4 separate regions of the Homo sapiens genome follow, and all the other regions are linked to region 4. Evidence: fine-mapped expression QTL. A gene starts in region 4. Each other region holds a variant in brackets. All regions are shown on one strand. Distances are from middle to middle. Region 1 overlaps PARP11 (poly(ADP-ribose) polymerase family member 11). Region 2 overlaps PARP11 (poly(ADP-ribose) polymerase family member 11). Region 3 overlaps PRMT8 (protein arginine methyltransferase 8). Region 4 holds the start of PARP11 (poly(ADP-ribose) polymerase family member 11).

Evidence for each region. PIP is the estimated chance that this variant, and not a neighbour inherited with it, causes the effect.
Region 1: its variant is fine-mapped to the expression of PARP11 in cerebellar hemisphere (GTEx, PIP above 0.99).
Region 2: its variant is fine-mapped to the expression of PARP11 in tibial nerve (GTEx, PIP above 0.99).
Region 3: its variant is fine-mapped to the expression of PARP11 in uterus (GTEx, PIP 0.98).

What each region holds. Positions count from the first base shown.
Region 1 is chr12:3,812,213-3,817,363 of GRCh38, forward strand. PARP11 (poly(ADP-ribose) polymerase family member 11) reads right to left here. Exons shown (of 8, transcript NM_020367.6): 7 at 1,825-1,976; 8 at 1-227. Among named protein-coding and RNA genes, the nearest start is that of PARP11-AS1, 55 kb to the right of the region's middle. The variant C/G (reference allele first, on the strand shown) is at 2,989.
Region 2 is chr12:3,847,388-3,852,538 of GRCh38, forward strand. The region is part of intron 1 of PARP11 (poly(ADP-ribose) polymerase family member 11); the gene reads right to left. Among named protein-coding and RNA genes, the nearest start is that of PARP11-AS1, 20 kb to the right of the region's middle. The variant A/G (reference allele first, on the strand shown) is at 2,160.
Region 3 is chr12:3,591,636-3,596,786 of GRCh38, forward strand. It overlaps PRMT8 (protein arginine methyltransferase 8), which reads left to right. Exons shown (of 10, transcript NM_019854.5): 9 at 596-717; 10 at 1,464-2,338. The coding sequence ends at 1,547. Among named protein-coding and RNA genes, the nearest start is that of THCAT155, 100 kb to the left of the region's middle. The variant C/T (reference allele first, on the strand shown) is at 2,634.
Region 4 is chr12:3,871,284-3,876,434 of GRCh38, forward strand. It overlaps PARP11 (poly(ADP-ribose) polymerase family member 11), which reads right to left and starts at 2,116. Exons shown (of 8, transcript NM_020367.6): 1 at 1,929-2,116. The coding sequence starts at 1,946. It overlaps PARP11-AS1 (PARP11 antisense RNA 1), which reads left to right. Exons shown (of 2, transcript NR_183432.1): 1 at 1-673. RefSeq lists a silencer at 1,784-1,893 and enhancers at 2,565-3,085, 3,086-3,605.

The sequences.
Region 1 (5,151 bases), 59 kb before region 4:
GTCATATAAATTCACATAGCTCCCGTCTTTGGAAGGAGGTCGCATGTATTTGGAGTCTCCGTTTATGTAATCTCCAATTAGCACTCGAGCAAGAAACATAGATTTATATGTTCTAAACAGATGCCGCTGTTGCAAGCTGACACCATGAATTTGGAATGTGTTCCCATGCTTTATGTCATCTTTGCAGAAACGACTGGAATAAGCAGCATCTCTAGCAAAATAGGTTCCTTAAACAAAGAGGACCAAGAAAAGCCAAGATTACTCCGAAGAATATATTAAAAACAAGCAAAAACATTTTGTCAGGAGAATAGATGCATAGAATTGTATAATAAAAATAGATGTGGAATTTCCTCATCTGCAGATCTTTAAGAGAAGAATAGAAATCCATCTGTTATGGACAGCTGTAGTATAGACTGCCATAGGAATAGATTTGTTGGTACAGACCAGTCCTCACCACCAACACCATCCCCTGCCCCCACCAAAATATAGCTATCAGACTTCTGTTTTTAAAATAAATCTTACAAAGAAAACAATTAATAAAACAGATAAAACTGGTTTAATGATTAAAAGTGTGGTTGGACCTGAGTTTTGTTTTGTTCTGTTTTTTTGAGACAGAGTCTTGCTCTGTCTCCCAAGCTGGAGTGCAGTGGCGCGATCTCAGCTCACTGCAACCTCCGCCTCCCAGGTTCAAGCGATTCTCCTCCCTCAGCCTCCTGAGTAGCTGGGATTACAGGCGCGTGCCACCACACCCAACTAATTTTTATATTTTTTTAGTAGAGACAGGGTTTCACCATGTTGGCCAGGCTGATCTTGAACTCTTGACCTCAGGTGATCCACCTGCCTCGACCTCCCAAACTGCTGGGATTACAGGCGTGAGCCACCATGCCCGGCCCTGAGTTTTACTGCTTGGCCCTCCCTCCCGTTTCTATTTCCTTTCACCACTTCCTCACCCTGTTCCCTTGTCAACATCCAGCAAAGCTCTAGAGAGCACAGTGGAAACCGATGGCCTACAGGGATTCTTTTAAACCCCAAGAAACCGTATTTCTATGATATGGGATAACAATTCAGTAATATTTCTGGAAACAATAGAATCCCATATCCATGAAAAGATTTCTGAGAGAGTATAATGCTATTCATATCTGAGCATTCCAAAACAAAAATGATTTTACTGGCTCACTGCCTACACATGAAAACTCGATAAAGCAGCCAACTCTTCTGAAATGGTAGACACAAGAGATAGACATCATTAAGGGCATTCTTACTCTAAAAAAATGTGGAAATGAATTGCAAAGTCTCATATTTACCTAACACTGATGGGATTTATGTAACACCTTCTGACCTCCTTACAGTTAAATAAGTGGAATGGCCTTTTTAGTAGTTATTTTTTAAATTAATTTACATTTTCAAAATGCAGCATATCCTGATCCTAAACAGTAGTCAGTTCTCTTGCTGGAAGCAAGGTACAAAGTAAGGACCAGAAAATTAAATGTACATCCCATACCTTTTCCCCTCACCTCTCTCCTTAATTTGCCTGAGTACCAGACATAAATTGAAAAACTTGGATTTTCACAACATTATAAATAACGTGAAGTTTTCCCCCACTATTCCTTATTGCTCACTAATATTCTTACCTATGATTTTCTTAAAAACAAAATAAAACAAAAACACTAGTATCTATTCTCGTACACAATGCAATTATAATCCATTTGTTTTATCATTCTCTATATATTTGCCATAAAGCAGTTCATATTTATATTTATATTCCTCTAAAAAGAGGAAACTCTCTCCTGGGGCTCAAATTGGACCTGGAATTCTGATAATTACCTTTTCCAAAGACAGCACCATGTATACCATTTATTCTCCAATCAAAGTTATGAATGCAGATTGCTTCCACAAATTCACTGCTGGTACCATGAAACAGCATTTGTTCATTAATCTGAGGCACACCTCTTTTTTTCTTGAGCTGAGCCTTTTTCCTAAAAACACAATATACACAGACACAAAAGCACACAGAAATATACCATAAGTAGCATTTATTAATCTTAATGAGCAAGGTTCAATAGAAAGCGTAAAACAGGAAATACTTTAATATAAATAACAAGTGGACAAAGCAAGTCTAGAAAAGAAATAATTTCAAATGTTCTTGGACACATAAATCATCTCATCAAAAATTATTAGTTAACACTGAAACTTAAGGTTGAAAATTATGCCAAAAACTATAGTTATCCCATGCTATGCCCCAATATCATAAAGGTAATTGATTGTCTAAACCAGCTAACCTTTATAGATGCCTAAAAATGAGACAACAAACAAGTAATACAAAGTTTGCAGAGACTTTAGACAGTGAATTCCTTGAGCAGGGATCATGTCATATGCTTTTTATCCTCAGAAACTAGAAAATGTTGGTTCAGTTGACTAAATTTTGCACCATAGGGTTGGGAGGGACATTAAGCCATCCAGTTTAATCCTCTTCCCAAGGATAAATCTATCCTAACACATAAAAGCATATTTAATGTAGGACTGATTGTAACAGAAAACAAAAACTGAAAACAGCCTAAAATTATTTCACAGAGAAATGAATATAGTCATGTATTTACATATAAAAGTTAAAAGTAATGAAGTAGATCTATGTGCATTAACATAGTAAATCTTAAAAAATAATATTGAATGTAAAAAGAATTTTGCAAAAAGAGATAGAGAACTCAAAATAATACTGTGTATTATGTAGGTATACATACACAGGTAGTAAAAAATACAAAATACAAACAATAAGGCACCATACCAATCTCAGGAGGAAAGAAGGAGAGTAGGACAGGGATGGAGTAAACACTTCACCTGTATCTGTGTGAAGAGGAAGGAAATGTGACAAGTATCAAAATGTTAAATCTGATTGGTAGATACATGGGAGTCTGCAAACTATTTGCTGCATTTTCATTCTTGAAACATTTCATAAAAATCATATTTTAAAAATTAAAAAGAATCCCCTCC[C/G]CCGGCTTCTGATAGCTCTTTAATGCCTGCTTCAATTCATCCAGTGTCAAGTACTCACAGCATCACGTGCTCACTTTGCAAAACAGCACAATTTATTTGTGATCAGCTGTAATAGTTGGAAAGTACATCCATCTCAATGCCAAACCAAATCTGCCTTCTGTTACTTCTATTGATTGGTCTTAGTTATTCTCTTATGAACATTAACAACTCAAATCACTCTTACACAAAACAACATTGCAAATTTGAACACCTACCTAGGCTTTCTTTTCTTGGTTAAATATACACCATTCCTTCAACCACTCCTGACACAGCATAGCTTCTAGGTCTTTCTTTATCCCAACAGTCTTTAGTTAACAAGAATCTGCTGGATACTTTCTAGTTTATAAATGTTGGCATGAAATAGCAACAGTCCAGATATCATCAGACAGCACTGACTCCACCGACACCACTGAATGTATTTTGGTAACAGGGCAGCAAACTGCATCCATAATCAAGTGTGTAGTCGGTTAAAACTCCCAGGACTTTTCCAAACCAGACCTCTCTTAGCTTGCTAAATCTGTGCAACTGATTTATAAACTGAATGCAATAGATTTCAGTTAAGCTTTACTTGATATAGTAATTTAAAAAGTAAAAATTAAATAACAGTAAAATATCCGTATCTCAGACTGAGTTCTGTAAATGATAGGCAGCTCGTTGAATATGTTTGGGAATGGATACCTGCATTTAAATGGTGACAGAGATGAAAACGCATACGGTCTTTCTCAAGAGTCACTTGGCAGTATGTATCAAAATTTAAATGTATATGCTTTGATCTATTTGTGACAGTCTTTTCAGACCATTAAGCATGACATCAGAAGGTCGTGCATTTAGCAAATGTTTACTTTACAAAAAGTCAGCATGCTTTCACTAAGAACTTCCTTTTTCAGAACTTTATGTTCTCACTTTTTTTAAACAAGGCGCATTTGTTCCCTTTATAAAAACAAACGAAAAAAGTTTTTTAAATTAAAAAAAGAAGATAATACTTGTTTTTACCCACTGTTTCAATCTTCCAAGGTCTTTCTGACTGCTGATTCACTCACTCAACAAATAAGCTACCCCTTCTAGTTTTGAATCCCTCACAAGTGTGATAAGCAAGCCCTCTACATTTTCATCCATTTCTGATAAAAATTTTGAAGGATCCAAGAAGAGAGCATGCATGCCTTTCGAGTTACTCTTTGCGTAAGACTTTTTGTCTACTAGTTTTTCTCTTTGAAATACCCACCAGCACATATTTCTCCATCTTGTCTTCCTGAAAAGAAACTTTCTCAACCACTATAAAGTGAGAAACCAAGCTAGACTGTCTAAGGGGCCTATCCATCTACCACTATGGTAATCCTATTAGTTAGTTTGGCATTAGTGAATCCATACTGGTTTTCTCAAAGAAACATTAGTATCATACATAATGCCAGGCTTCATGGTCTGTAATGTCAAACTTGTCAATGTTGTGCTTCATGATCTGCAATGACTAGAATCCACTCTAAGGAAATTCTGTCTCTACTAAAAGATACAAAAATTAGCTGGGTGTGGTGGCACACACCTGTAATCCCAGCTACTTGGGAGGCTGAGGCAGGAGAATTACTTGAATCCAGGAGGCGGAGGTTGTAATGAGCTGAGATTGTGCCACCGCACTGCAGCCTGGGGAACAGAGCAAGACTCCATCTCAAAAAGAAGGCCAGGCGCAGAGGCTCACGCCTGTAATTCCAGCACTTTGGGAGGCTGAGGTGGGCGGATCACGAGGTCAGAAGATCCAGACCATCCTAGCTAACATGGTGAAACCCTGTCTCTACTAAAAATACAAAAAATTAGCCAGGCGTGGTGGCGGGCGCCTGTAGTCCCAGCTACTCAGGAGGCTGAGGCAGGAGAATGGCATGAACCCCGGAGGCGGAACTTGCAGTGAGCTGAGATCGCGCCACTGCACTCCAGCTTGGGTGTCAGAAAGAGATTCTGTCTCAAAAAAAAAAAAATTCATTTATCACTACTTTTCGGGCACAAATTCGATTGAATCTCGGTTTGAAAATTCACTGGAGTTTCTCTTAGATATTATAAATAAACTGTGGGTTAAAGGGCATGGAGTATGGGCATAGGCAGGCATGGAAAACAACGCTTACTTACTAGATTAGATGG
Region 2 (5,151 bases), 24 kb before region 4:
ATCACCCATGTACATAGATGCAAAAATCCTCAATAAAATACTAGAAAACTGAATTCAACAACACATTAAAAAAATCATTCACCATGATCAAGTGGGATTCACATCCCAAGGATGCAAGGATGGTTCAACATATGCAAATCAATCAACATGACAGATCACAACAACAGAGAACCAAGAAGAAAAACCATATAATCATTTTAATAGATGCTTTAAAAGCATTTGATAAAATTCAACATCTTCTTATAATAAAAACCCTCAACAAACTGGATATAGAAGAAACGTATCTCAAAATAATAAAGGCCAGATGACAAACCCACAGCTAGTATCACACTAAATGGGAAAAAATTAAAAGCCTTTCTTCTAAGATCTTGAACAAGACAAAGATGTCCAGTTTCACTACTGTTACTCAACATGATATTGGAAGTCCTGGCAAGAGTTAGGCAAGAAAGAGAAATAAATGGCAACCAAATTGGAGAGAAAGAAGTTAAATTTCCTTTGTTGACAGAAGACATAATCCTATTCTTAAAGAAACCTAAAAACTCCACCAAAAATTATTAGAACTGATAAATTCAGTAAAACTGCAGGTTACAAAATCAACATACAAAAATTAGTAGCATTTATACATGCCAAGAGCAAACAATCTAAAAAAGAAATCAAGAAAGCAATTCAATTTACAATAGCTACAAAGAATATAAAATACATACGAGTCAATTTAACTAAAATGAAAGATCTATACAGGAAAAACTATAAAATGCTTATGAAAGAAATTAAAGACATAAAAATGGAAAGATATTCCATGCTCATGAATTGAAACAATTAATATTGTTAAAATGACAATACTGCCCAAAGCAATTTACAGGTTCAACATAATCCCTATCAAAATACCATGACATTCTTCACAGAAATAAACAAACGCAAAAAATCCTAAAATTTATATAGAACCACAAAAGACCCTGAATAGCCAAAGCAATCTTGAGCAAAAATAAGGCTAGAGGCCTCACATTACCTGACTTCAAAATATACTACAAAGCTATAGTAATCAAATCAGCACGATACTTGCATAAAAAGACACATAGACCAATGGAACAGAATAGAGAACCCAGATATAAATCCACACATTTACAGCTAACTCATTTCAACAAAGTCACCACGAACATAGAATGGGAACAGTCTCTTCAATAAATGGTGCTGGGAAAACTGAATAAAGACTATCTAATTCGCAGAAGAATAAAACTATACCACTATCTCTAACCACATTAAAAAATCAAATCAAAATGAATTAAAGACTTAAATCTAAGATCTGAAACTATGAAACTACTAGAAGAAAACACTGGGGAAATAAGAACATTGGTCTGGGCAAGATTTTTTGTGTGAGACCTCAAAAGCACTGCAACCAAAGCAAAAATGGATCACTGGAATTACATCAAACTAAAAAGAGTCTACACAACAAAGGAAACAATCAACAAAGTGAAGAAACAAGTCACAGAATGGGAGAAAATATGTGCAAACTATCAATGTGACAATGGATTCATAATAATAATATATAAGGAGCTCAAACAATTCAACAGCAAAAGAAAAAAAAAAACACAAATAATCCAATTTAAAAATGGGCAAAAGACCTGAATAGATATTTCTCAAAAGACATACAAATTGCCAACAGGTATATGAGAAAATGCTCAAAATCACTAATTTTCAGAGAAATGCAAACCAAAACCACAATGAGACATCATCTCACCTCAGTTAAAATAGCTTTTATAAAAAGACAAAGAATAACGAATGCTAGCAAGGATGTGGAGAAAATGGAACCCTCGTTCACTGTTGGTGGGAATGTAAATAAGAACAGTCACCATGGAAAATTATGGAGGTACCTCAAAAAAAAATAGAACTACCATATTATCCAGCAACTCCACGACTGAGTATATACCTAAAAGAAAAAAAATCAGTACACTGAAGGGATATCTGCACTCCCATGTTTATTGCAGAATGATACATAATAGCCAAGATAGGGAATCAACCTAAGTATCCATCCATGGATGAATGGATAAAGAAAATGTGGTTTATATACACAATGGATTATCGAGCTGTAAAAAAGAATGGAGTCATGACATTGGCAGCAACATGGATGAAATGAGAATTCGTTATGTCAAGTAAAATAAGCC[A/G]AGCACGGAAAGACAAATATCACCTGTTCTCATTCATATGTAGGAGCTAAATAAGTGGAACTCATGAAGAGACAAAGTAGATTGGTGGTTACCAGAGGCTGGGAAGGGCAGGGGGAGAGACTGATTAAAAGAGGTTGATTAATGGGTATAAATATACAGTTAGATATAAGAAATAAGACCTAGAAGTGATAAGACCTAGTGTTCAATAGATCAGTAGGGTGACTGTAGTTTACAATAATCTATTGTACATTTCAAAATAGCTAGAAGGGAATAGTTTGAATGGTTTCTAGCATAAAGAAGACAAGTATTTAAGGTGATAGATATCCTATTACCCTGATTTCATATGTAAATTTTATGTGAATTTATTAAATTATCACATGTCCTGAAAATATGTATATCGATTATGTATCAACTTTTTAAATATGTATTTAATTTTAAATATGTATTTAATTAAATACATATCATTATGCCTATAATATACAGAACTGTTAAATATACAATAGCAGCATCAAGAAGGCAGGTGGGAACAAAGCTATATTGGAGAAGGAAATAACACCATATGGTAACTCAAATCCACAAGAAGAATCACAGTAAATAAGATGGTATATGTAATAAATTAAATATAGATGCTACATACTTGTTCTCCCCTTTTTTCTATCAGCTTCCTTAAAAGACATATAATTATGTAAAGTAATAATAAAAATGTATAGTTGGGTTGGTAACATATATAGACATAATATATATAGCATAATTATATCAGTTCGAACACCCCTAATCCAAAAATCTGAAATCAGAATTCCTCCAAAATCCAAAACTTTTTGAGACTTTACATAAGGCCACAAGTGGAAAATTCTACTCCTGACTTCATGTGATGGGTCACAGTCAAAATGAGAGAGTATAATATACAGTTTATTCAAGGGAAAAAAGACTTTCCCAGGCCCTTTCAGCTGTAATATATATTTTCCTCACATGTCCAGATTCCCCCACGCAAGCATGTCCACAAAGGGTAATAAAATGGTATATGTACAGGCTGGATACGCCAATGGCAGGTTCCTCACAATGCCCCACAAGAGGCCAATATCTATGTGCATTACTGTGTTTTTTTCTTATTCTCTGCTCTGCAGTATAAAGATACTGTTGACAAGGTCAGAAAGGCCTGCAGATATCACTGTGGATAACAGTGATAAGAAAAAAAGGAAAGCATTTATATTTATCTACAAAACAGAAAGTCAAGCTGTTATAGCAACTGGACAGCAATGTTAAGTCTGAAATATCTTACAGAAGAGTATGGTGTTGAAATGACCACTATATATATGATCTGAAGAAAGAGAAGGACCAACTATGAAAGTTCTATGTTGAAAGTAATGAACAGAAGTTAATAAAAATGGAAAAATCCTACATAAAGCTAAAAACAAAATCTTGTTCATGTATTGAAAGGATAGTCCATCAGCATCACAGAGAATCCATGCCACTTAATAGTATGCTGATCATGAAATAATCAAAGATCATGATGAACTGAAAATTGAAAAGAATACTGAATACTCAACAGGCATGTTACAGAAATTTAAGAAAAGATACAGCATTGGGGGTCCATTCCAAGATGGCCAAATAGGAACAGCTCTGGTCCACAGCTCCCAGCGTGACTGACACAGAAGACAGGTGATTTCTGCATTTCCAACTGAGGTACCTGGTTCATGTCATTGGGACTGGTTGGGCAGCGGGTGCAGCCCACAGAGGGCAAGCCGAAGAAGGGCAGGGCATCGCCTCACCCAGGAAGCACAAGGGATTGGGGGATTTCCCTTTCCTAGCCAAGGGAAGCCGTGACAGATTGTACCAGGAAAACTGGGACACTGCTACCCAAATACTGCCCTTTACCAACAGTCTTAGCAAATGGCACACCAGGAGATTATATCCCGCACCTGGCTCAGCGGGTCCCATGCCCACAGAGCCTTGCTCACTGCTAGCGCAGCAGTCCGAGATCAAACTGCAAGGCAGCAGCCTGGCTTGGGGAGGGGTTTCCACCATTGCTGAGGCTTGAGTAGGTAAACAAAGTGGCCAGGAAGCTTGAACTGGGTGGAGCCCACCGCAACTCAATGAGGCCTGCCTACCTCTGTAGACTCCACCTCTGGGGGCAGGGCATAGCTGAACAAAAGGCAGCAGAAACTTCTGCAGACTTAAATGTCCGTGTCTGACAGCTCAGAAGAGAGCAGTGGTTCTCCCAGCACAGTGTTTGAGCTCCAAGAATGGACAGACTGCCTCCTCAAGTGGGTCCCTGACCCCCGTGTAGCTTAACTGGGAGACACCTCCCAGTAGGGGCCGACTGACACCTCATACAGTCGGATGCCCCTCTGAGACGAAGCTTCCTGAGGAAGGATCAGGCAGCAATATTTGCTGTTCTGCAATATTTGCTGTTCTGCAGCCTCCGCTGGGATACCCAGGCAAACAGGTTCTGGAGTGGACCTCCAGCAAACTCCAACAGACGTGCAGCAGAGGAACCTGACTGTTAGAAGGAAAACTAACAAACAGAAAGGAATAGCATCAACACCAACAAAAAGGATATTCACACCAAAACCCCATCTATAGGTCACCGTCATCAAAGACCAAAGGTAGATAAAACCACAAAGATGGGGAAAAACCAGAGCAGAAAAGCTGAAAATTCTAAAAACCAGAGCACCTCTTCTCCTCCAAAGGAACGCAGCTCCTTGCAAGCAACGGAACAAAGCTGGATGGAGAATGACTTTGACGAGTTGACAGAAGTTGGCTTCAGAAGGTTGGTAATAACAAACTTCTCCGAGCTAAAGGAAGATGTTTGAACCCATCGCAAGGAAGCTAAAAACCTTGAAAAAAGATTAGACGAATGGCTAACTAGAACAAACAGTGTAAGAGAAGACCTTAAATGACCTGATGGAGCTGAAAACCATGGCACAAGAACTATGTGACGCATGCACAAGCTTCAGTAGCTGATTCAATCAAGTGGAAGAAAGGGTATCAG
Region 3 (5,151 bases), 280 kb before region 4:
CTCCTGCCTCAGCTTCCTGAGTAGCTGAGGTTACAGCTATGAGCCACTATGTGTGCCCAGCAGGAAAAGCTAGTTGTAAGATTGAGGACCAAGTACCTGCCATATCAGTGGATCTGGGGAAACTGGTTTAGCTGTGGAGTTTGCATGAATGATGTCATTTAAGGGGAGATAGGAGGGCCTACTCTACAAATCTCTTCCCCATACTGTCTGAAGATCTTCATTCTGTTGAACTAATTAAAAACAGCAGCATGTTCAGATGCATGTATGTCCATGCATTTAGTGGGTGACAGGGTATTCCTCATCCATCCCTTGCTATGAACTTGTAGTATCGGGTTGTTTGTCTTCTGATCCCCAGCACTGAGGAGATGGGGATGTGATGGGAGGAGAGGCCACTGGGACTGAGAGGGAGTTCTGATGGGGCTTGGAGGAAGGCTATAAGGACTATGCACCTGACCCAACAAGAGTACTGGGGTGGGTGGTTTCAGTGAGTCCCAGGGGAAGCCCAGCAACTTCTATGCAGGGTCCCAGCCTCATCCCTTTGGAGACTTCGTCTCTGACTCTTTCTTCCCACCTCCCCTGTTCTCTCACCCCTCAGCCCCTGATGCTCCCTACACCCACTGGAAGCAGACCGTCTTCTACTTGGAAGATTACCTCACTGTCCGGAGGGGGGAGGAAATCTACGGGACCATATCCATGAAGCCAAATGCCAAAAATGTGGTAAGTGCCGAGGGACATAAGGACATAAGGGAGAAGGGCCCCACAGAGCTGGCTCGCTCAGGACCCACTTGCCCGGGTTCTTAAGTGTCTCATGAACAGTCAGAAACTTACTGAGGCAGGCAGTCGGTAGCCACATGTGGACATGACTAGGCCTAATTGAGGGACTCAGGCTTGACCCCTCAAAACTCCGCAAATAGAGGTTTTCCCTGGGTCCAATTCTGGACTGCCTTGGCTTTGAAGACAGCTTCCAGCTCTTCCTGTGAGGGGCTTTCAAATAAATGGGTCCTACCTCATTTAGTAAGAGCTGGGCCAGGAGATAAGCTCCTGGTGGCTGGAGGATGTTTGGCGTGCATTTCTTCAGCTGGCCTGGTGCGAGGGAGACTTGCTGGCACTTTCGGGGCAGCCCCAGGTGTGGGCATGAGCGCTAAAAACGTCTGCAGAGTGCTCTGAAGGTCACCTCACAGAACACTTAACCACCCCAATCAGTTTACTTCCAGGACGAACTCGGAACGTTTTGTTATTAGAGCAGGAAGGATTTAGGGAGAAATGGAAGAACTTCCTGTGAGGACAAGGAGGCAGCAGAATGGATTCCTGTGGGCTGTTCAGGGGAACCCCTTAGCCAGAAAGCCTTAAGACGCTGGTGCTACCCATCCCTGTGGTTCCAGGAGCAGGTGGTGCCAGAGAGTGGGGCTGTGGCTTCATACCCAGACGGCCGCCTGACCCTTCGCTCTCTCTCTGCCTTGCAGCGAGACCTCGATTTCACAGTAGACTTGGATTTTAAGGGACAGCTGTGTGAAACATCTGTATCTAATGACTACAAAATGCGTTAGCACACGTGGGAAGCTGCAGAGAGCAACGAGAAAAGGAACTCTCACCTCGATCTGCCGTGCCGTCCCAAAGAATACCGTTTGCAGGACTACACACTTGAAAACCAGAGTTTTCAACTCTGCCTTGAAGATTGGTGAACTCCCCAGGGCTCCCGTGGGCTCTGCCACTGGACAGAAGGCCTCCAGCTCCTCCGCTCTGCCCTGGTAGCCCTTCACGAAGGCTTTGTGTTGCCAACAAAGAGCGACCTGGCGTGCTGTGGCTGGGCCCCGAGGGTGGAAACGTATTCGCGTCTCCCCGTCTCCTCCTTAACTGTGACTCTCCGGGTCTTCTGAGTTTTGCATGCTGCGGGTGTCTAGGACAGATTGCTTCCACTAGAACCTGGAGACATAGCATCTTTGATAGCATAAGCCAGATTATCTGTGTGTGCGGTGGTGTGCGTGTGCGTGCATGTGTGAATGTGAGCAGCATAGTTGATATTTACCCACAAACACCTGTATATGCGTGCATATACAACCAAGTGGGTAGACCTAGGTGTTCTCTCAGAGGGGTGTGTGTGTGTGTGCGTGCGCGTGTGCCTAGAATATATATTACTCTCAGAGGAGATTCTGTTGCTTTTGAATAGGAATTTGTTTTGTGATTAGTTCGCCCCTTCCCCACCCCTTACCAGATGTTAAGCAGCTATGAAACATTCTCTGTACTAGTTCTGGTCTCCTTTTGACTGGACTGTGGCTCTGAACCTTGAGCATAGTACCACGGACTCCGTGGGCGCTCAATAAACACACATGAGAACAAACTGGTGGGATGGCTGGTTCCTGGTGCTGTGAAGTGGGAGGGCTGGGGGGAAGCCAGAGGCCATGATGGAGTGGAGACTCAAGGGCAGCAGCACCTACGTGGGTTCACGTTTGCTCCCCAGCAGGGAGGTCAGGGCTGGTCTAAGAGCATCTCCCCCATGGACTCTGAGGGGTCCTACCTTAGAGGGTAAGGAGGTCATGGAGCTGGGGTGGGGGACAGGAGCTAACCAAGAGTGTGCCAGAATGGCAGGCCATGCATAGCCTGGAGACTGCTTAGGATAATGTCCAGCCTTGGTC[C/T]GGGCGTGGTAACAGCGGAATCTGTGAAGGATGGAAATGCAATGTACTTTGCAGGGCGTGGTGGAGTGTTTTGATTTGGTCTGGTCTTGGGCTATGCTTTAGCTTCCAAGACCATGATTCTCATCTATGTCACCTACCTGGGAAGAGACATTCCAGGTGGGGGAAGGAAGAGGGGCCATTTAGAGATGATGGGTGGAGCTGATGGGATCCAGGAAGAAGGAAGATGCAGGGGAGACCTCGGGCCTGGCTTTGCGTGGTTGGGGAGTGCTGGTGATGGCAGAGCCCCTGGATAATGATAACTGAACCCAATAGCAATGGCCTCTGCACTTCCATAAACTTCTGATGTCCATGGACTCTGTCAATTCCATGAAGCCTTGGGAGTTACACGCAGAGGCCTTACCCCAGCCATTTGCTAGCTGAGGTGGGCCAAGGTCTCAAGTCCCAGTTAATGTGCCCTCCCCTGCCCTGCACTGATTCTTCCAAGCCTCAGGCCCAGAGGCTAAGACTGTCTTTTTTATACCTAGAGAAAAACACAGTGAAAATTATTTAATGCTTTTTGTGTACATGTATTGGGAAGAAAAATAGAGAAACTTAAGAGGGCACAGAAGCAAGTGTATTAGAGGAGAGAGGAGATTGAAGGAGGACATTGGAGTGGGGACTCCCTCGGGGGCATTCGAGAACTCAGGAGTTGGTTTCCATTGTAGTGAGAGTTGGGGTCCCCTGGATTCTGCCTACTGACCTGGTTTAACTTTGGGCAGGAAGCTCATTCAACCTGGTGTAGGATCCCATCCATGGTCAACCAGCAAAATCCCACATTGTCAGGAGCCCAGTGGAGCGGTCAAGATGATGGCCTCCTGGGAGCTCCAGGCATTTGGGTCCTGCAGGCATCCCTGACACTCTGGGACCTGGGGAGGCTGCTGGGGCAGGAGGCTTAGGGGAGGACCAGAATGAGCAAAGGCCCAGCAATCTTTCGGGCCTCTCTGACCATCAGAGGAGAAGAGGGCCATCCCAGGGGCCTATCCTGCACCCACCCCCATCTTTAGCTTTCTGGAGTGGTACAAGCCCTGGGCTGCCCCACCACCACCCCTCCCTGCCCCTGGGCTGCAGAAGGGAAGCCTGTAATGCATAAGGGATCAATTCCACAGCAGCCTCCTCCCACCTGCTCAGGCGAATGCTCCAGTGGGAATTATTTCCCTCCGATTCAGTGGGAAATAAGCAATCTCTGCTTTGAACAGCCTCTGAATGGAAGTCAGTGCATGAGATGCGGTCTCGAATGACAACAGAGATGCTATAAAGATGACTTCACTGATAAAACCTGTTTTTTCCTCGACTCTTTGCCTCTTTTACATTTTTGAGGCTGTACAAAACCCTTTAGAGACTTTCTCGCCTGTCACTCTTCCCCTGCTCTGGGGAACTTTGCCCTTCTATTCCCAACTCCCTTCTCCCAAAATGTGGTCCTCTTTTGTGATTGCATCTGGGCTTGTCTGTACAGAGGCCACTCTGTGCTTGTTCCGAAGTCCACGGAGGCATGGTTTCTCTCCCCTCCTAAACCACAAGCTCCAAGGGCGGAGACCTGCCTGGAGAGAGCAGGGTGCGGGTGGCTGGTAACAGAGTGGCAGCTGACCCAGCACTTGCTTGATCCCATGGAATGTGCCCATGAGCACCTGCCCCCCACCCAGGACCTGCAGGCTCCAGCCTCTTCTATTTGTGCTCCTTGGGAGATGCCAATATTTTTTTTACTTTCATAAAAACCACCCCATGGAGGCCATCTACCCTAGATACACCCAAGCCTCTGTCAACTCTGTGGGCGGAAATGAGGCCTTAGCCAGGCCCTCCATGGACCCATCTCCGAAGGCTCCCTCTCCCCTTGACGTCATACCTGCAATCCCACCTATAGACTCCACCTCACTTCAGACCTCAGTAGTGGCATGAAATTAAGCCAGACATCTTGGCCCGTCTCTGCACCGTGTTCACCTGGCCTGGAATCTGTCCCTGGCCTAGGGGCAGTTCTGATCACCCGGCATGTGCCCTGCCTTGATCTCCTTGATCTCACATAGTATGGGGACTCTGTCTTGTTTTTGCAAATCCCCTCACTACCACACTGACGGCCCCAGCCTGGTTTTAGGAGCCCTCTTCCTGAAGAAACATTTTTCAGGACCCCTGCTACCTGCCTGGGTTCCTGACTAGCATCTCTTTAGATATCTTGTTTCTGAGTACAGCTCTACCTGGGGGCACCTAGATTTCCCTAGACCGCCAGGCTGTGGCATATTATACCCAGACTCCTATTTTGTTGTCTGGTGACTTCCAACATAAGTCTGACTTCCCGAGGACAGGTGATCTCCTCAGTACGTGTCTAACCGTAGTGGATGTGCTGAGCTCCAGGCCTGGAGCCTCCAATGTCCCCGTCCCATTGGAAGCAATTAGTCCATATTCAGCAAAGGCTCAGACACAACACATTCCAGTATTGGATACTTAATAGGCTCCAGGCACTGAACTAGGTAGCAGCAGTATAGCAGAG
Region 4 (5,151 bases):
TTCATACACAATTATGCATTGCATAAAAGCTTTCAGTCAACCATGGATCGCATATACAAGTGGTCCCAAAGATTGTTAACACTTTATTTTACTGTATCTTTTCTATGTTTAGATACATAAATACTTTCCATTGTGTTACGAATGCCTACAGTATTCAGTACAATACTATGCTGTACAGATTTCTAGGTTAAGAGCAATAGGCTATTCCATATAGCCTTAGGTGTGTAGCAGGCTTATGAAAGTACACTCTATGACGTTGGCACAATGAAAAAAATCACCCAGCAATGAACTTCTCAGAACATATCCCCATTGTTAGGAGGCGCACGACTGTATTTAGTCCAACAACTTGCTGAAATGTGATTCTACCATTTTTCCAGTCAACTCCTAAGTTTTAAATACCATACATCTGCCACCTTACCAGGCAGTTTCAACCATAACAACAGAAGAATACTCTTGGCAAATAGATCCCACTCTCTGAGGGTTGTGTTGGGGCTCAGAAAATACTACCCCGAAGTATGACACTTTGGCATGCTGAATACTTTGAACTAAAAGAGATTGGAAGGCCTCAGAAGCAGCCTCGGAAGCAGTCTCTCCCTCTGATCTCCTGCCCTTCTGTCTCCTGCCCATCTTTCGTCCCAGAAGTGAGTCACAGAAACCAGAATTCTTCCCCAAGGTGAGTGATAGAAACTAGGATCCCTCTCCTACAAAGCAAGCCATAAAAACTGGAACTATTAAGCTTTCCCTGCCATTGTCTATAGGAACTGGCCATAAAGAAATTCTCTAATCTACCTTGCCTGATAGTAGGTCGCTAAGACCCTCATTCCAGAAGGGACCTTCCTCCTCCGTAGGAGGAAGAAATGATACACAGAGAGGCCAAGAAGAATCTGAACAAACAGACCTTGCTGGGCTTCCTTCCTCAGTTTATTAACATTAGAGTATATCCTTTGTCCAGTCACATTTTTACACAGTTGTCTATTCTTCATGGGTCCTACGCATAAAAATAGAGATCTCCCTGGTCTCTGAAGTGCCTGGTGGTGTAAAACTTTGATTAGATTTGCTCTGCTTTTACCTTGTTAACCTATCTTCTGTTTTAAGGAGTGGTGGCTGTGATCCTTACAATGGGTGGTGAGGAAAGGTACTAAAGTTTTCGGCCCCTACGTTGCACTTTAAATAAATAAATGTATAAAAGCAAAGTAGACAAAGACACATGAAGTCATAATGAAAATACCAGAGTCAGCCAAGGAAGAAGGCAGACTTGCAGTTGAAATGCTCCAGATCACTTTGTCCACCGAACGAAAACATCTAAGAACATACAGTCCATACTCCAAGTTTTAAACGACTGTCCACCAAGAAGGGAAAAGGAGAACTGATGGCTCCTCTTAGGCCCATTCAAGACAAGGGGGTCCCAATTCCCTTGCTTTAGACTGGTGGGACTGGCAGGTAAACCTGAGGCAAATGACTGACTACAGGTTCCAAGGCCAGTTACTCCAATTAGAAAGCAAAACACAAAGTTTCAAAAAACAGTGAAGGCAGTCGGGAGGCTGAGGCACGACAATCGCTTTAACCCGGGAGACGGAGGTTGCGGTGGGCCGAGATCACGCCACTGCACTCCAGCCTGGACAACAGTGCGAGACTCCGTCTCAAAAACAACAACAACAACAAATGGTGAAGGGATGAGGCTGAAACATCACGGGAAGTAAAATAAATAATTGTAACAAGAAAACAATAAAGCATTGGAGAATCCACCCAGGCACTTCCACTGCTTAAAAAGGTACAGACTACAGAAGCCAAAAGGCCCGGGAACTCCGGTCCCGGAACTCAACACCCAGACTGAAGCGAGCGCGGGGAAGCAGTTCCGGTGACCCCCTCCCGCCCCTCTCTCATCAACCCCGCCCCCTGGGCCCGCCCCGTCCCGCCCGGCTACTCACTGGATTCGCTTCCCACATAACGGTGACAAAATCGAGCGGAGAGAGCCTGTGGGAAGGGGCTAGCCGCGGGGCCTGGGTGTTGGATTTTTTTTTTTCCCGCGGGTCCCCGGGAGCGAAGGGACGGAGATGCAACCTTTACGAAGGCCTTCCTCCTCCCCCTCCCTGTCACAAGCCAGCGTTTACAGACCACCCAACCTCCCGACTTCCGCCCGACGTTGGCCAGTCAGATCTGTCTCCGCCCCACTCCTACAAGCTCGCCCCGCCCCTGCACGCTTATCCATACGCGCGCGGGCGGTCGTCCTGGGCGGGGCTTGCGAGTCTGTGTCTGACGAAGGAGTTTAAAGGGTTTCTGGTCCAACTGTATCACCCAGTGATCTTAAAGCCACGGCTGGCTGTATTTCTTTCCTATGAAACAAATTTTTATTGATCACCGTGTAACGACCAAGAGTCACACAGGCCTGGCAATGGCATTTGGGAGAAACTTCATAATCTTTCAATATCTTCATCCTCAAAATGGAGATGGTAGTAATATCTCCCTATGAGTGAGATTATTGAAAGCATTTAGCACAGTATTTGGCACACAGAGTTCAATAAGTGACGGTTATTTGCTCACAAGGGAACCTTTACATACTATCCCTGCCCTCAAGATTTTATAATCTAGAAAAGAAAGCAAAAAGTAGTTTAGAAAAGTTAAAAAGTGCAATATGATTTATAGGTAATATGGTGAATAGAGAGTGCTATGCGAGCATATTTACCTAGAGTAGAGTGTCAGGAAAGCTCCCTCAAGATGTTTAAAACCATGAGGATGTATTCCTACTGATGTAAAGAGAGCTAACAGAGTGAAATAATCTTCCATGCAACAAAGGATCTACCCCATAGGAAATGAAAATTAAACAGCTCATTATAGATCCTTCTGGACTTTTCTATGCCTCTACACATTGAAAAAAATGTAATCAAAGAATACCTATAGATTTAGAACCTGATTTTTTTTTCACTTTAAAGATTATGTGGCTATCCTTCCATTCCATTAAGTTTAAATCTGTTTCATCATTTTATTTATTTATTTAGGCAGAACCTCGCTCTGTCGCCCAGGCTGGAGCGCAGTGGCGCCATTTTGGCTCACTGCAACCTCCGCCTCCCGAGTTCAAGCGATTCCCGTGCCTCAGGCTCCTGAGTAGCTGGGATTACAGATGTGCGCCACCACGTCCCGCGAATTTTTGTATTTTTAGTAGAGACAGGTTTTCGCCATGTTGGCCAGGCCAGTCTCGAACTCCTGACCCCAGGTGATCCACCTGCCTTGGCCTCCCAAAGTGCTGGGATTACAGGTGTGAGCCATCTTGCACCCGGCCATATTTTAAAGTAGACTCATGGCATTCCATAACTTATGCGTATACTACGTACACACAAATAGACACACACATTTGAAATAATCTACTGAATAGACGTTTGAGTGGTTTTCTATTTTTCACTATCCCAAAAAAATCCTTCAACAGGCATTTCTTCACATTTGTCCATTTACTTCTTGGAATTAATTCCTGGAAATAAAATAGTTTACTAAGAGATTATTTTTGCCAAATGGTTGACCAGTTGCCCCCATGTCATTTAGTGAATATTCTTTCCTCACTACTTTGAAGTGCCACTGTTAATTACAACCTAAATTTGCATATACATATACATAGGTATACATACACGTATATATCTGTTTCTGAACATTCTCCTCTATTAATTATCTGCTTATTCCTAAAATATGCCACAGTTATAATCATTACATATTTAATATATTTGCCTTTTCATAAAGGAACCTCTCCTAATTCTCTTCTTTTTCAAAATTTTCAATATCATGGGTCTTTCCATTCAGAAATACTTGTTTTCTGTATCTTTAGATGCATTAACAATTTTTTTTCAGATCTGCATCAGCATCTGTAAAAAAAAAAAAAAAATCACATAGGTTTGCATAATCCTTGGGAAGTTTGTTCCTAGATATTTTATAGTTTTTTTGTAAGTGAGATATTTCTTATTGCTGTAATTTAGGAAAGCTATTGACTTTTGTTTATTTACCTTGTATCCTACCACACTATGAAAAAATGTCTTGTTAGTTCTAATAGCTTGACAGCTCATCTCTATGAATTTGTACACAGACAATCATTATCACCTGCAAATAATGCGTTTCTTTCTTCCTATTGCATTGGTCAAAACATCAGAAAAATGTTTAAGACTACAGGACAAGATAATGGATATCCAGCTTTAATGCAGTAAGGCAAGCATGTGCCCATTTGGTGCTAGTGCTAGTTGGTATTCTTTTTTTTTTTTTTTGAGCTGGAGTCTCGCTGTGTCGCCCAGGCTGGAATACAGTGGCACAATCTGGACTTACTGCCACCTCTGCCTCCTGGGTTCCAGCAATTCTCCTGCCTCAGCCTCCCGGGTAGCTGGGACTACAGGCACATGCCATCATGCCTGGCTAATTTTGTATTTTTAGAAGAGATGGAGTTTCACCATGTTGGCCAGGTTGGTCTCGAACTCCTGACCTCAGGTGATCCACCCGCCTCAGCCTCCCAAAGTGCTGGGATTACAGACGTGAGCCACTGCGCCTGCTAGTTGGTGTTCTGAAAATACACTATCATCTTTAAAGAAATTTTCTTCTATCCTGTTTTACTACATGCTGTTAAATCAGGAAAGAGTGCAAAATTTTACCAACTGTCTCTTAGCCTCTATCACTATATTTGTTTTTTACTCTGACTCTTTTATATAATGAATTATGCTCATTGATTTCCTAGTGTTCAACACATTCTTACATTTCTGAAATAAACTCTGCTTTGTCATGTTCTATTATTTTTTGATCAAATGAAAGCCATGCTGGGTTTGATTTGTTAATCTTTTATTTAGGATTAAAATGTATTTATAATTAATAAAATTGGTCCATTGTTACTGATTTTTGTGCTTGTCTGTAACAAGTTTTGGTATCAGAGTAATGCTAGCCTTGAAGAATGAACAGTAGCAGTTTAAGTAATTTAGGAACTAGCTCTTCCTTGAAGTTGGAAGCGAATTTTTACAAAGCAGGTTTAACTAGAAAGGTTAGAGCCAGGTCCTCAATCTTTTGTGAGGCTGGAGCTATACTTTGTTTTCTTGAAGATGTGGAGTTGCCTGAGCTGGTGGTAGGAGAGTGGGATGGAGAGAACACAACTGGTTTGAGTACATATTGAGTGAACAATTCCTTAAAATATAC